Linked DNA regions of Homo sapiens: region 2 is linked to region 1. The links come from fine-mapping of genetic effects on gene expression. Tissue or cell type: whole blood. Region 1 holds a variant in brackets; the other region holds the start of a gene. All regions are shown on one strand. Distances are from middle to middle.

Region 1 (8,173 bases):
CCCTCCGCCTCCAGCTATCCACAAGTGCCCATGATGCCAGGACTTGGGGATGTCTGGGTACAAGTACAGGGGCACAGAGGACAGCCAGTGGCCAGGAAGCCTCTGGGGCTGGTGGAGGTGAGGCTGGGTGTGCCTGTTTGTGCAAGTGTGTCGGGGCCTCGGGCGCTCCTGACGGGCATCTTCTAGGCTGTGGGACCTTGGGAAGGTTTCTCTGCCTCCCTTCACCTCAGTTTCCTCATCATTAAGTTGGGGAGGTCAGATGTCACAGTCTGTGAGGCAGCCCTGCATAACACCAGGCCTGGTGTTGGTGTGAGCAGAAGCTGGCAGGTGGGATGGGGTGACAGGATGGAAGGCCCAGGGCAGTGGCGAGCCAAGGACGGGGCCAGCAGGAGGTTGTCTGAGGCGAGGACCTCCCGGGAGCAGCGGCCAGATGCCCTGTCCTCCAGGGTGGCAGGGGAAGGCTGCAGGGAGAGGGTTGTCCCTGAGAGGGAGCCCCTCAGCGCTAGGGGAGATCAAGCTGAGGCTGTGAGCCAGGTTGGGGAGGGCTCCTGCCATCCAGTCCCTCTGGCTCCAGCAGTTTGGTGTCTCTGGCCAGTAGACCCTGTCCGGGACTGGGCCCTGCGCTGGGCAGGACAGCAGTGGCCTTGGCCTTGACCTTGACCACTTCAGGACCACCTCCCCCAGGCCCAGTGAGACGGCCCCGCCCATCACCTCCAGACAAGGCTGCCCTGGCTGGGATTCGGCCCAGGACATCAGGGTCAGAACAGAGCAGCAGAGCCCACTAGGCCCGGCCGCAACTCCCAGCCCACTCCCCTGCCTGCCATCAGGCTCCCGCTGTGCCAGCCAGCAGCCACCCTGCCCACTGCTGATGGGGCAATCTCACCCTTGGGCCACCTGCCCCTCACTGAGGCATGGGTCGGTCCAGCTGGGAGAGCTGGTGGTTCCCCTGCCCTTGGGAACCCAGCTCCCACCAGCTGCCAGGGCCTCCTGCCCACCCTCCCACAGCCGTTCCCACACCCCGGCCCTCCCTGCTGCTGTCTGCCCCTGATCTCCCCGAGACTCTCTTGAGGATGTCTCCCCGAGGTTGGAGACTTGCCCAGGGTCACCCAGCCGTCACCATGCTGGGCGCAACAGGCAACAGTGTTTACTGCCTCGCACTCCTATGGCTGGCCCAAGGGAAGGGGGGAGCAGGGAAGGCCCCTGTCTCTGGGGGACACCACGGTGTGACCTGGACTCATGTCTCTGGGTCTCGTGTCCTCATCTAGAGCACAAGGATGGGAGATTGGACCTCGGTCTCTCCTGGGATGAGATGGGATCATGTGAGTCACCTAGAGATGCCTCCTGCCACCCGGCAAGTGCCAGACCACGGGGCTTCCTCTTTGTTCCTGTCTCTTGCCATTTCATCTGCTAGGTGTGACCTCGGGCCACACGACCTTCTGCAGCCGGGCATGGGGCAGCACCCTCCGCTCTGCAGGCGGCCCTGGTGGGGATACCCTGTGTGCAGGGGCTGGCACCACCGTTGGGGCAGTGGGAGCAGAGGGCGGTGCTGACAGGAGGGGGATGTGCTGGGCCTCCTGGCCTGGCCTGTGGCCAGCCTCACCCACCCACAGAAGGGGTGGGATTATTACCTGTTTTACATATGGGGAAACTGAGGCTGGGAGAGGCAGAGGATAGCAGAGCCCAGGGCTAAGTGGAAGCGAGAACAGAGGGAGGTGGGGTGAGACCCCAGCCTGGCAGAACTCCTGCAACCCCACTGGAGGGGTGAGGGGCTGGCCTCCTACACACCCCTCCACCCACAGCCCCCAGCCGTACCCAGCTCTGTGCCCGCCCGGGGGGGATATGGCTGTCCGAGCCGGAGATGCCCCCCTGCGATGGTGGCCAGGCCGGTGCTGGAAACACTGCGCACCCACCCCACCACCTCTGTGCTCTTGACCCGAGGGCCGCTCAGCCTCGGGCCGGTGTGGGGACGGCCAGGCCTCCCGGACACTGATTCTTCAGCGGGGCGGTGTCCACGCGGCCGCCCCTTCCCAGCCCCACGTGCTTCATTGGGCACCAGGCGCCACCTGGTGGTCAAGCCAGAAGCCGCCGCTACCAGAACCGTGTGGAAAGCATCCCCAGACCCTCAATGTCCTCCTGTAAGCTTGGGGAAACTGAGGCCAGGGAGGGGTAGGAGCTCCCCAGGTCCCTCAGATAGGCAGGGCCTGGAGTAGGGGCAGAGGTCAGGGCTCCTGACGCCTGTCCAGCGCCTGCAGCTGGGCTTAAGTGACTTAGGAGATGTGGGGGCCTGGCCATGCAAGGACGGAGGACTGAGCCCAGCGCCTGAGGTTCGGTGCACCTGCCCTGGCCACGCCAAGGCCTGGGAGCCATGAGCACTGGCAAGTCCCGCCTGCTTCCCCAGCATGGGTCCCAGGGCCCATGTTCGGCAGCATCTTTGTAGGAGACAGTGGCCTCACTCTTGATAGCAAGGAAATGAGACCAGGTCTGGGGTTCACACCTAGGAGCCAGGCCCTGCCCAGGCCCAAGGCCCAGCTCGCTGGGGAAAGGGGGACCCCACAATGGCCCAGAGCTTTGCCTAGAGCGGCAGCACCAACGACCACGTGTCAGCGCCTGTCCTCGGAGCTCCCAGCCCTGAGCCAGCCTCATGGAGCAGCTCAGAGCACTGCCCAGCTCTAAGTCCTGTCCCAGGCCTGGCTGCTGTTCCCTCTGCTGCTCCTGAGCCCGCTGAGTCCCATGGGGGTAGATTGTGAGGTGTGCTCTCTGACTCTGAGGGCCCCAGGCGAGACAGTAAGAAAGCCAGGCCTCTCTTTGGAAGCCCCTAGGGCAGGGTGGGCAGGGAGGGTGGGGGTACTGGCAGCTACTGAGTCTGGTGTCGCAGGGTGGGTCTAGGTGGCTCCCCTGGCAGCAAAGGCCTGGCCTCCAGCCCTCAAGGTCAGTCCCTGGGGCACCTCACAAATGACAGGTCCTAAACCTCGCCTGCTCAGACCTCTCCCCAGCCTGGCTCCTCTGTCCCAGTGGCCATCCACCCACCCACCTAGAGAGACCTGGGCCTCCCTGCCACCCCTGCCTCTGCCCCAGCTGGTCCCCAGGTCCCAGCAATGTCACCCTTCAATAGCTTCTCAAACCTGACACCTCCAACACTCCCTGGTCATTACTGTCATCTGAGCACATCCTTTGGCCTGAGCCCTGGCAGCCACCCTCTCAGAGCTCTATACCCCCACAAACACCTCTCCCTTCATGGTGGCCAATGCAGGGTTGCCAGGCCGGGCTGCACCCCTGTGTTGGCTCCTGCACTGTGGGACAGCCACTGGTCTGACGTAAAAAGCCAGAGCTGGTACAGTCAGGCTAGCCTGGGAAACTGTGGGTAAACCAAGTCACACGGACCTGTTTCCTCCCTGCAGGCCTTGTCAGAGCCTTCAATAGGCTCACCACAGCGTGACTCCAAGAGGGCATCGTGAGCAGCAACTGTGGATCATCTGTCCAGGAAACGTGCCATCCAAGAGCATTTCCCAGGCCCTTGAGAGAGACAGCCAGCCAGCTACCTCCTCAGCCTGGGTCCCCAGGGTCCCCTGGGGGCTTCCCCCCACTGCTGGCCTGCCCTGCAGCCCCCTCTGCCACTTTCCCCATGGTGCTAGGCTCCACCCTATTCAACTTGACTGAGTCCTCACTCTAACCTGTTTGTTCATTCAGTGGGCATTTTTTTTTTGAGATGGCATCTCTCTCTGTTGCCAGGCTGGATGGAGTGCAGTGGCATGATCTCACCTCACTGCAACCTCCACATCCCGGGCTCATGTGATTCTCTTGCCTCAGCCTCCTGAGTAGCTGGGATTATAGGCGCCCGCCACCAAGCCCGGTTAATTTTTGTATTTTTAGTAGAGACGGGGTTTCACTATGTTGGCCAGGCTGGTCTTGAACTCCTGACCTCAGGTGATCCGCCCGCCTTGACCTCCCAAAGTGCTGGGATTACAGGTGTGAGCCACTGTGCCTGGCCTCAGTGGGCACTGATTGACCATCTATTGTGTGCTGGGTGCTGGACTAGGTGCTGAGAAGACACGCTTGCTGGAGCTCACAGCCTAGTGAACGGGGCACATGGGGCAGGGCTCACACAGGCAGACACAGAATGTACCAGGGAGGGCGGAGGAAGGGGAAGCGGCCTTGGCAGGCGAGACCTGACACATGACCGGCCCTGGGTGTCCACCTGCGGGCATCTGCATCAGCTCTGGGACTGTGAGGGTCAGGACAAATCAAAACCCCCTTCATAATCACGTCTGAGCACAGACCACAGCATGAACACCATCCAAGCCACAGAATGTCCAGCCTCTCCTGGCCCAGGCAGCAGGGGGACTGCAGCCACGTCAGCAATCGCAGCTCCAGCCTCGCTCTGGGCTCCCTGCCCTGGAGACAGGGCTTGTGAAGATCGCTGATCGGAGGACGATCCTGCGTCCTGAGAGCATCCAACCCAGAGCCCCGCCTCCTCAGACTCCTCCCCATCCCGCAGCACAGCCCCAAACACCCCATCACAGACACCCCCGGATCCCCAGATCCCACAGCGTGCATTCTCCCTCGTGGCAAAGGACACTGGGCCGCCTGCGTTGCCACAGGAACTCACTCCTCCGTGGGCTGAGGGCATTGGCAGCTGATGGAGAAGATCAAAGTGGGTGAGGGGAGCGGCTGGTCTCCTCCCTCACTGCCACCCACTGCCCCCTGCCTCCGCCTGCTGATGGCCTGGGGTCAGGCGCAGCCCTGTGTGTCTAGGGGAGGAGGCCAGACTGCGGGGTGCTGAGCAGGCTGGGTCTTGTCTCATCTCAGGACGTTGGTCTGCTTGGCCTGCCCTGGCTGGCATTTGCAGGGCACTTGCCTGCTGCCCCCTGGACCTCGTGGTACCCATGAGAGCCAGGTCTCCTTGTCTTCAGCCTGGATAAGGACACAGAGAGGGTAAGGGCCTCGCCCTGGGCCATGGGATTGGTTCACGGCTGGCTGCCACCTTTCTGCTGGGTGGTTTCTGCAGCCTGTGTTCCTTCTGCCACCCCGAGGCCCCTCTGTCATGTATTAGGGCTGCAGGGGGCAATCACTCGAGGGCTGGGCTTCCTGCTGTTAGCTGGCCTCTC[C/T]GGTGCCCGCACTCAGCCTGCCCCTGGCTGGGCACTGGAGGGTGCCTCCCCCCGGAGGTGACCCCAGGCCATATGAGCTCTACTGCTGGGCCTGCGGGGTGCTACCCAAAGCCTCAACTCCTCTGGCCTGGCAGGGGCGGTGGACAACCTGGCTGGGCCCTTCCTGGACTCCTGGGCTCACCATGACCTCTGTGGACACAGCTTGGCCTTCTTCACTCGGGGACCAGCCATCCCTCCCCACCCGGCACCCCGAATGCTCTGACAGGCTCTGTTAACTCCTTCCTTGACCCTGGAATGCACCTCCCGTGAGTCTGCCCAGGTGAACCCCTCCCACACTCACCCCAGGCCTAGCACCAGCCACAACTCTTCCCCTGCCCTCCCCTGCTGCCTCCCCTCCCCCTTTCTTCCTTCCTCTGGAGGCCACCCCTCCCCTGCTGCCTCCCTGGGTTTCCCCCTTCTCTTCCCTTGCTGTCCCCCAGCATCTGCCTTCAAATCCTTCCCCACCACACCCAGACCCCCCAGGCCAGCTGCTCCATAGGATATGACAACTGTATTACTTATTTATTTATTTGTTGAGACAGGGTCTCACTCTTGTCACCCAGGCTGGAGTGCAGTGGCACGATCTGGGCTCACTGCAGTCTTGACCTCCCAAGGCTCAGGTGATCCTCCCACTTCAGCCTCTCGAGTAGCTGGGACCACAGGCGTGAGCCACCAAACTCAGTTAATTTTTGTATTTTTTTGTAGAGATGGGATTTTGCCATGTTGTCCAGGCTGGTCTTGAACTCCTGGGCTCAAGCGCTGTGCCTGCCTCAGCCTCCCAGAGTGCTGGGATTACAGGTGGGAGCCACAGCGCCTGCCTGGATATGGTATCTTTACTCGGGGCCAGGACTTGTGTGGGGCTGACCCAGGAAATGGGCAGAAGCCCTGGAGGCTGAGCGGGAGGAAGGAGGGTGGATGGGCTTGGCGAGAGAGGCTGTTGGGTCTGTGATGTAGAGGGAAGGGGAGAGGGGTAGAAGAGGGGAGAGAAGAGGGGAGGGACGGGGTGAGGCCTTCTTGAGGAAGGGCTGCTCTTCTCTGTTTTATTTCCGGGGACTGCAGGAGGGCCAGTATGTCTTGCTTGCCTGTCCAGGCAGTGCTGCCTGCCTGGGGCTTGGCTGGAGACAAAGCCTGGATGCCCAGGATTTGAGAGGGGTGAAAGTTGGCATCCGGGCCCACCAAGGACAGGCCCGCCATGTTTGAACCCAGGTCAAGTCTGAGGGGGGAGCGCATTCCTTCTGGGGAGGCCGGACAGCGGTGTGCAGGTGGCTGCTTTTCTCCTGCATGAGGACCTTCAGGGACAAGGCTGGAAGCGAGGTACCTGGCAGGGCCCTGGGCCTGGCCCAGTTCCTTGGCCCCAGGGAAGGGACCCCAGAACACAACCTGTTGTCCCCTATGCCACCATTACTCTCCCAACCCCAGGCAGCCTGGAAGGCAAGACAGCCACAGATCATGGGGTGGACAGAGCTGGCCGCCCATTCCAGCTGTACCCGGCCTGCTGTGTGGCCTTGGGAAAGTCACTCTACCTCTCTGAGCCTCTGTCTCCACATTCATGAAATGGGCTGAGGATGGCGGCCCTCTGGGGACTGTCAGGAAGCAGATCAGGCCCTGGATGTCACCAATGCAGCACCAGAGGGGCCGACACACCAGCATTTACAGCAACTGTCTGGGTCCTGCTCCCAGCCCTGGGGAAGCTGCTCCCAATCAGAGAAACCAAGCTACCCATATAGACTCACAGCAGCTCTCACACTGGGCAGCCCTGAAGGCTGTGGGAGCCTTGGAAGGGTGAGGGTGGTATAGGGCACTGGCTGGCATAAGTGTGGATGCTGAACTTGGGCCACCAGGCAGGACGCATGCAGGGAGGCCAACACAAGGCACCTGGCAGCACCACCTGCCCTCAGGCTCAGCAACAGCTGGGGCCGGGGTAGGAGCTGAGTCCCTTGAGCAAGCCAGACCTGAAAGCCTTCCCCTTCCTGGTCCACCTCAGCTCCCCAGTTGTCCGATATCTGAGATGTGCGACCTGGCTGGTGCCACCTCCCTTCTTGTTCTAGAAAGAGGCTGAACTCAGAATGGGACAGTGACCAGCCATGTTCACCCAGCTGGCACAGGGATGCCCCCAGGCCTCATCAGACCTGACCCCTCCGACCCTGCCTGTTTCAGGAGGCAACGTCAGAGGAGCCCATTTCACTAAATGCCACTGTGTGGGTATGAGTCTGTGCCAGGGGCTTAGCCCTAGGGCCTGACCTCCCTCCTTGGCATCTGAGGCCCTTCACTGGGGCTCCAGCCTCCCCCCAGGCTCTGGGGAGGCTCAGCTCAGGGCTCAAACATGGCAGGCCTGTCCTTGGTGGGCCCAGATGCCAACTTTCAGGCTCAGCCACTCCGCCCGCCTCCCATGTGTGGACCTTCACTGTGCCACCTCTTCTGCCTGGGGCCACCTGAACTCCCGGCCTTCAGATAACCCAGCTCCGGAGTCTTCCCAGGCTCAGGGTGGCCTCCCTTCCTGCTGGTGGCAGTGCCTGGAGACAGATGTGGCTCTCAACTCAGCGCTGTTGGGGACGGGGGTGCTCCCTCTGGCTCACCCCCAACAGTTTTGCCAGATGCCGTTGGGGGCAGTGATGCTGACAGCTCCTTGGTGGTGAGCGGGGCGTAGGTGGGCGGGAGGCTGCCAGGCATGTCGCTGGCTCGGGACGATGGCCGGCGGTCCCGGCACGTGGCTGTGATGGGTACAGAGGCCCCCACACCTCCCCCGCAAACACACACACGCCAGGAGAGCGGGAAGCGCCCTGGGGTCCCTCCCCAGGATTGTCCTCAAACCCGAGGCTTCCACAGCCCAGAAGGGGTCACCCTATTCACAGCTTTGGCCTCGGAGGTGGGGGGGGGGTGCAGGCGGGGCTGGCCTCGGAGGTGGGGGCTGCTGCCACACGGTGTCGCTGTCGGGAAATGCACAGTCCGAAGGCGGGGGTGGCTGGCGGGCAGTGGCCCAGGCTGCCCAGGCGGGGCGGATGGTGGGGGAAGCAGGGCAGGGTGAGGGA
Region 2 (8,173 bases), 30 kb before region 1:
TCATGGCTTAGTCCCAGCACTATGGGAGGCCGAGGCAGGAGGATGGCTTGAGCCCAGGAGTTTGAGACAGGTCTGAACAACATAGCAAGACCCCGTCTCTGCAAAAAATACAAAAATGAGTCAGGCCTGGTGGCGTGTGCCTGTGGTCCTAGCTGCTTGGGAGGCTGAGGTGGGAGGATCACCTGAGCCCAGGGAGGTCGAGGCTGCAATAGGCCGTGATCATGCAGCTGTGCTCTAGCCTAGGTGACACAGTGAGACCCTGTCTCAAAAATAAATAAATAAATAAATAAAATTAAAAACACTGCTTAAAGATGATTACATAAATATTTATTTATTTTTTGAGACCAGGTCTCACTCTGTCACCCAGGCTGGAGTGTAGTGGTGCCATCTCAGTCACTGCAACCTCCACTTCTCAGGCTCAAGGGATCCTCCCACCTCAGCCTCCCAAGTAGATGGGGCCACAGGCACACGCCACTATACCTGGCTAATTTTTGTATTTTTAGTAGATGCAGGGTTTCGCCAGGTTGCCCAGGCTGGTCTTGAAGCCCTGGGCTCAAGCAATCCATCCCCTTCGGCCTCACAAAGTGCTGAAACCATAGGCGTGAGCCACTGCGCCCAGGCTACTTAAATATTTATTTAAAAAACAGACTCTCCAAAACAGCATGCAAGAAAAAGAACACTGGCCACCAATTACTAAAGAGTAAGATGTCCCGGCAAAAATAGGTTCTTCATCTTTTACCATGATGAGGATTATCTTTAAGTTTCTTTTTTATATTCTGGTATGAAAATCAGTTTCATGGATTCATGCTTGTCTTGTTCAGCACTGCGGACAGTAGCCCACAGCAGCTACTCAGTCAATATTTATAGAATGACTGTATTAAATATATACACATAAAGAGATTGGCTAAATATTATTGTATCTAAACACAATGGGATATTATATAGACATTTCAAATGATGCAGAAATGTTTTTCACATAGGAAGATTTTTCATAACCTACTCGATAAAGCAAGTTACAAAATAGTGTATAAAGAAGACACATTTTCTCCTTCTTCTCTGTCTAGTTCTGTCTCTCTCATATACAATTTTTTTTTTTTGGAAACGGAGTCTTGCTCTGTCACCCAGGCTGGGGTGCTGTGGTGCCATCTCAGCTCACTGCAACCTCCACCTCCCGGGTTCAAGAGATTCTCCTGCTTCAGCCTCCTGAGTAGCTGGGACCATAGGCACCCGCCACCATGCCCAGCTAATTTTTGTATTTTTAGTAGAGACAGGGTTTCACCATATTGGCCAGGCTGGTCTCAAACTCCTGATCTTGTCATCTGCCCACCTCAGCCTCCCAAAGATTACAGGTGTGAGCCACCGCACCCGGCTGATACACAATTTTTAAAACTCTGTTCATAAGTTTGACAAACAGGAGCTAATGAAAACCACTGCAGTATTCGATGATTATGACACGTCTCCTACTTTACGTTTAAGATGTCGGAAAAGGGCCCGGCGCGGTGGCTCGCACCTGTAACCTCAGCCCTTTGGGAGGCCAAGGCAGGCGGTTCACCTGAGGTCAGGAGTTTGAGACCAGCCCAGCCAACATGGTGAAACCCACCTCTACTAAAAATACAAAAATTAGCCGGGTGTGGTGGTGAGTGCCTGTAATCCCAGCTACTCGGGAGGCTGAGGCAGGAGTATTGTTCGAATCCGTGAGGTGGACGTTGCGGTGAGCCAAGATCATGCCACTGCACTCCAGCCTGGGTGACAAGAGCAAAACTCTGTCACAAAAAAAAAAAAAAAAAAAAAAAGGATGTGGGAAAAGAAAGAAAAAACATTTTTTTCTAATGTCAATTAGTTAATTAATTTTATTTTATTTATTTATTTTTGAGACGGAGTCTCGCCCTGGCGCCCAGGCTGCAGTGCAGTGGCACAATCTCAGTTCACTAAAACCTTCACCTCCCAGGCTCAAGCGATTCTCCTGCCTCAGTTTCTTGAGTAGCTGGGATTACAGATGTCCGCCACCATGCCCAGGCAATATTTCTATTTTTTTGTAGAGACAAGGTTTCACCATGTTGGCCAGGCTGGTCTCGAACTCCTGGCCTCAAGCGATCTGCCCACCCCAGCTTCCAAAGTGCTGGGATTACAGGAGTGAGCCACCGCACCCAACTTGCCAATTAGTTTACTTTTGCTTCAGAGTTGCAGAGGTCATCATCAGCCCCAGTGTCCCTGGTCTCTCATGGATGGTGACCACACAAATTTGTATCATCTGGCCCGTTTCTTCAGCCTATCCCTGGCATGTTCTGGCACGGGTCTATCTCAAGAAGCCATCTGCTTAATATTCAAATCAAAATGAAAACAGCTCAGAGACAGTACACTACTCGGTACCAGTCAGTGTGGACATCCCAAGGGTCTAGTAAGCACTCACGTTTCTCAAAGTTAATGTCATCAAGTTTTAAATTATACAAAACATGCCTGCCACGAAGCAATGAAGTTCCTAGCAAAAGTCACACAATAACTCAGAACTTCAAAGTGAATCCTAGGCCAGGCACGGTGGCTCACGTCTGTAATCCCAGCACTTTGGGAGGAACAGGTGGATCATGAGGTCAGGAGTTCAAGATCAGCCTGGCCAAGATGGTGAAACCCCGCCTCTACTAAAACTACAAAAATTAGCTGGGCATGGTGGCAGGCGCCTGTAATCCCAGCTACTCGGGAGGCTGAGGCAAGAGAATCGCTTGAACCCCAGTGGCAGAGGTTGCTGTGATCTGAGATTAGGCCACTGCACTCCAGCCTGGGCGGCAGAGCGAGACTCCGTCTCAAAAAAAAAAAAAAAAAAAAAAAATGAATCCATGCACATGTATTTTACTTTCAGTCTGAAAACGTATCTAACCTTGCATCACAAAGTAATAACCCCCAGATTGCTGGTCTGTAGTGCAACAGAAGTAAACACTGAAAACACTTAAATATTTCCATCTGGAAACAGTAAATTAAACCTTCTATTTACCTGTGGTGACAGCTTCTCAGTTCTGAGCTTGTCTTGCCACAAACTGTTGAGTCCACAGAGCAGACAGGGCCCTGAGCTTCAGCCTGGCAGTAAGAAGGTGAAGGAGGAAGTGATTACGGTTGTTCTCTGGATGCCCCCCAACTCTTCACCTTGGAAGAGGAAAGTCATGCTGACCCTGCCCCGCAACGACACGGGTGTCGCAGGGTCCTTCCCAGGAAAATCCCGTGTCCTTGCCCTGACCCAGTTCCCCAAGGCACCCTTATCCCAAGGAGGCTGGGAGAGGAGGGGCCTCCCTGGTTTCCTGGCAGGGGTCGGCTGAGGCTGACGTGGGCGTGCAGCCCCGGAGGTCCCACGAAGCCCAGGCCATTGGACAACTGTGGGTTTTTCTTGGAAAGAATCCTGACACTTGGAGCACACTTCCTCTCTTTTAACTTTTAAAAAAGACTTCAGAAAAGCACAGGCGTGCAGTTGTGCCCGGTTGGGGTGCGTGAGGGGGCAGGGCCGACCCTCCTGACTTCCACTGGCACCACCCCGCGCCCCTCCAGCTTCACCCGCACCACGCGGGCCGCGCAGCCCGGGACTCCGGAAAGACCTGGGCGCCCGACCCTCAGCGGCCCCGACCGGGAGCGACGTGGCGCGGCTTCCGCAGAGAAGCCACCCGGCCCAGCGCAGCCTGTCCGGGGTCGCCCCGCCGCGTTGGGGCACAAAGTGGGAACCGTTCCTCAAAGGTGGTCGCAGCTGGAGGAACAAACACGCGCGTCTCCGTCCGACGGCAGAAGCCGGGCGCACCCACCCAGGGTCGGTCTGTCCGGGGCCCGGGTTTCCTCGCCTCGGAGATCCCTGGAGGTCTCGGAAAGCACCTTCTGAGTCGGCGACGCCCCAGCTCCGCTGCGCCGAGGAAAGGGCAAGTCCCGATGTCCCCGCCCGTGGGCCCTCCCTCCGAGGGGACAACCCGAAGACCCAGAGTCGCTGCGGTCCCCAGACCCGACCTCCGCGCAGCGCCAAACCCCAGGGACAGCCGCGGACTCGGGTTCCGGGCAGGCCCCCAGCGCTAGGAGGGAGGCCGAGCTGGGCCCCGAGATCCCTCGCAAGAGTCCTCGGTGTGTGTCCTCGCTCCTCGCCCTCAGGTCCCCAGCCGCGCACCCCGGGCCCCCGGGTCCCCGGGACCCGGAGACCCCGAGACCCCGGGCCCCGCGCATGCGCCGCCCAGCCCCTGCCCCTCCCCCGTCCGCCGCCCTCCGGGTCCCGGGACCTGGGAAGCCCGGACCGCGGACCCCCGCGCGCGTTCCCGCCCGCCCGCCCGCCCGCCCCCGGGCACCTGGGCCGCGGTCCGCCGCCTGCCGGTCCGTGGGGCGAACGCCGAAGGAGGCGGCGCCGGGCAGGGCGCTAGCGGCCGCCTCCGCCCCCGCCGCCCGCTGCCCCCGCCGCGGGGCCGCCGCGTCCACGGCCCATGCCCGGCGCCGCCTCCGCGCGTCCGTGCCAGCCGCGCCCCCGCGACACGCACCGCCCCTCGGCCCGCCCCCTGCCCCGGTCCGCGCGAGCCAGTGTCCCGAGGCCCGACCCGGAAGCCCCGCCCGCCCCGCGCGCCCTCCGGGCCCCGGGCCTCGGCCCCGGGACACACCCCCCGGAGGGCGGCGCCCGATTGGCTGCTCGCGGTGGGCGGGGCCCCGGGAGCGCTCAGCGGCTCCCACCTAGCGCCCCGCGGCCGCTGCAGCCAAGGGAAACTGAGGCCGGAGAGGTGGAGGGACCGTCCAAGGTCACCGATGGGACACCGCTGAGCGTCAGCGCCCCTCCAGCCCGGCGCACCGGGGCGGGGCTGAATTCGAGGCGGGGACGCGCGGCCGCGGGGCGGGTGGAGGTTCCCGCCGGGCGCCCGTGCCACGCTGGCGAGCCCCTCCTGCCTCCTCGATGAGCCCGGCTCTGCTACTCTGTGCGATGAGCCGGTCTAGACCCGGGACCCGGGACCGGGTGCCCTTGAGGCTCAGAAGTGCGTAGGGTGGGAGGCGGCCCGGGAGGGACCTTGTCCCTGGAACCCCAGGATGCAAAATAAGGAGAAGGGGAAGGCGAGCTGGGAGGACAAGGAAACAGGTGGCGGGAGGTGCCAGGGCGGTGTGGTGGGCGGGGGAACGAGGAGGGTGAAGGGCAACGCGGACGGGCTCGGGGAGGCGCCGCCAGCTCCGACCCCACAACCCCACCCCTCTCCAGCGGCCCAAGAGCCATGCCCGCCCCTACTTCATGCGCTGGGGGGTGAGGGGCTGACTTTGTGCCTACGCAAGGCGCTGGGACTCTGCCAGAGCAAGGAGAGGTCGCGGCCCGGTGGCCAATGGCGAGGAGTAGGAGAGCGCCCTGCAAAGCCGCTTTGTTCGGGCCGTGACGCTCGAGCTGCCGGAGCGGAATGCACAAAGCCCCTGGGTGCCGGCACATCAGGGCTCCCCTCCTCGGGAACGCAATGTGTGCTATGCCCGCTCCACTGCCTGCCCTCCGCTGCCAGCTGTGCCTGCCACTGTGCTATTTGTGGCAGCGGGCGCCCAGGAGGACCCACTCCGGAAAGCAAACCCAGATCTCATTAGGCAGGGGAACTGGAGATCAGGCGGGAACTGGCCCTTTCACAAACTTCTCTTAAACTCACCCTTGTTGATTAGCCAGGCACCTATGGTGAACTTTGCCCCACCCTCCAGACACCCACATATCCTTCCCACTGGCACACGGCAACCTCACCTTCTCTTGCACATGTTAGCCAGCAATAGCTATCATTTATGTTGTTTCAGAGTTTATAGGGTGACCTGTACACGTAATATCCTGCATATCTCGTGGGGTGTGCAGGCAGCCACATCCAAGCTTGTCATCCTGTTGTGTTTGGTGAGGGAAGCTGACCCTGGGCTGCCCACGCAGAGCTCAGGGGCTACATCCTCATGAGGACCTCCGGGCTCAAAGACATTACCTGGCATACCCATATCCCAGACTCTCAAGGACCAGGGTCCACACAGGTGTGTGACCCAGATGCACCACCCAGGTCAACCAGGTGTTGAAAGACCTAGTGAACATTCTCATGAACAAGGACAAAGGCTATGTGGGGGTGTGCAGAGTGGTCACGTACACTCAGCAGACATAGGAAAGTGATATTCTTGGGTTTTTTGGGGCTCCCAAGGTTTTAGGGAGAGAAAACTTGTTTTTCATCCATGTGTCCCAGAAATAAGCATTTTCAATCAAATGCTGTCAGCCAGTCTCCCGCAGGCGTCCTGAGGGTAGAAGCAAGTTCAGGACTCTTCTCTTGGGAGTATCCTGGCCAGAAACAGCCCCATATCCATGCTTCCCGGGGGTGGTAGGTTTCTTCTGGGAAACCACGCTCAGATGAGAGAGATGAAGCAATTTTCTGTTGGCCACGAAGACCTTGTCACACACCCAGCATGGGAGCAACTGTCACAAAGGGCACACCCTCACCCCCATTCCCAGCTCCAGGAAGTCTCTCTTTACCTTCTTCAGTGCTGATGAAATGAGGGCCACACGACAGAACAGAAACACCGCTGGCGCAGGGACTGAGTAGAAATCTGTAACTTTGAGGACAAATCAGTGCTCCTGAAAATGTCTCTGAGCACCACCTGAGTTTCCTCTCTGGCGCCTTAGTGACTACTGGGAGCATCTGGTGCATATGGATCTTAGTTCATAGCTACCATTTATGTGGTGACAATGCTGTCTCAGGTCCCTTTTTACATTTTCTGATCCGGAAGATGTTCTGAGGGTAATTATTACTGTGCCCACATTGCAAGATGGAGACTGAGGCACAGAGAAGCCCCATCTGCACTGGGTCCCCCAGGCCAGCGGCAGGGCGCAGGACGGAAGGCAGGTCTGTAAAGCCCACGTCTGCCCTGCTGAGCTGCTCTCTCCTGCAAGTGCTGACCTGCCAGCCAGCCAGAGAAGCCGAGGCTCTCCCACAGCCTCAGGGAAAGAATTGGGAAGCTGGGAATTCAGACGGGAAGGGGTTGCTGGAGGAGGCAACCTGGAGTGATAGGGCTTGGCCGCTCAGTACAGGGCAGCAGTTAGACCCTGAGTGCTGGGAGCAGGTGATGACGGTCATCTGTGTTCAGGGACCCCAGTGCTTTCCCTGACCCTGCCAGGGTGAAGCTTCTCCTATGGGCCTGGGGTCCAGGCTGGAGTCTGTTTGCCAGCCAGGGCCTGCGAAGTTTGCTGCTGGCTTGCCCTCTGCTGATGTGCAAAGCTCTCTGTCAAGGGGGAGTGTGTGCTTCCAGGGTGTCATCCGCCAGGGCAGTGGCCTCTGAGCTCCTGGAAGCGTGCCTGCAGGTCAGGTGGTGGAAGTCCACCGGGGCAGGGGCCGTGGGCTGAGAAAGGGAGGGCTCACTGGCAGCGAGCAGGCGGCTGCTTGGCGACCCAAGGCTGGACCTCGTCGGTGAGGGCCAACCATGGGCATGTCCTTAGTTGCCATCCTGGTACTGACAGCAAAACCCCATGGGTCCAAGGTAACAAAGTATTGTCATACTAGGGGACAGAATCTACAAGAGTCCCACAAGGCAGCTGTGCTTATGCTCATCTTACAGATGAGGAACGAAGGGCCAGGAATGGCAGCATGTGGCCAAGGTCCCCGGCAGGGAGTGAGAACTCTCCCGAGTCCCAGTCCATCAGCACCTGGCCCTGGGTACCCCCGGGGTTCGGTTGTCTGTTGCAGAAGCTGTCTGTTGGCTGATACGGCAGCCTCTGGCAGACTCAGGAGCCCAGGGTCAAGGATCAGATTTCCCTGGTGGCTGCTCCTGGCCCCACAGCTCCAGGGGGGTGGCAGCAGCATGTGCAGAAGCCTGTGGCAGGAGACATTCAAGGGGAGAGAGTGTGGAGATGGCACAAAGCGGGCAGAGCTGGGCAAGGCCCTGGCCAGGCAGGTCTTGCAGCCCAGTGAGGAGTTTAACTTTGGTCCTAAGGGCTGTGGGACACCTGCCATGGAGGGTTGTCAGCAGAGGCATGACTCCATCTGATTAGCACCAAGTGCTGCATGCTACATGTTAACCAGTGGTCACAGCTGAGGTGGTGGGGAGGGGCTTAAGCTGTGCACCCATTCTAGCTTTGCAGGATCTGGAAGCTTCCGCAGGTCCAGAAACTGCTGCTGTCATGACACTGTACCCTTTGAAAATTAACCAGTCCCCAGCTTTGCAGCAGGGCCCATTCGACATGGCTCAGATG

Evidence for each region. PIP is the estimated chance that this variant, and not a neighbour inherited with it, causes the effect.
Region 2: PPARA starts here. The variant in region 1 is fine-mapped to the expression of PPARA in whole blood (TOPMed, PIP above 0.99).

Annotation. Positions count from the first base shown.
Region 1 is chr22:46,116,502-46,124,674 of GRCh38, reverse strand. No RefSeq gene overlaps it. Among named protein-coding and RNA genes, the nearest start is that of MIRLET7B, 6.9 kb to the right of the region's middle. The variant C/T (reference allele first, on the strand shown) is at 5,106.
Region 2 is chr22:46,146,784-46,154,956 of GRCh38, reverse strand. It overlaps PPARA (peroxisome proliferator activated receptor alpha), which reads right to left and starts at 4,431. Exons shown (of 9, transcript NM_005036.6): 1 at 4,305-4,431; 2 at 2,987-3,069. RefSeq lists an enhancer at 3,691-3,880 and silencers at 4,091-4,210, 4,361-4,970.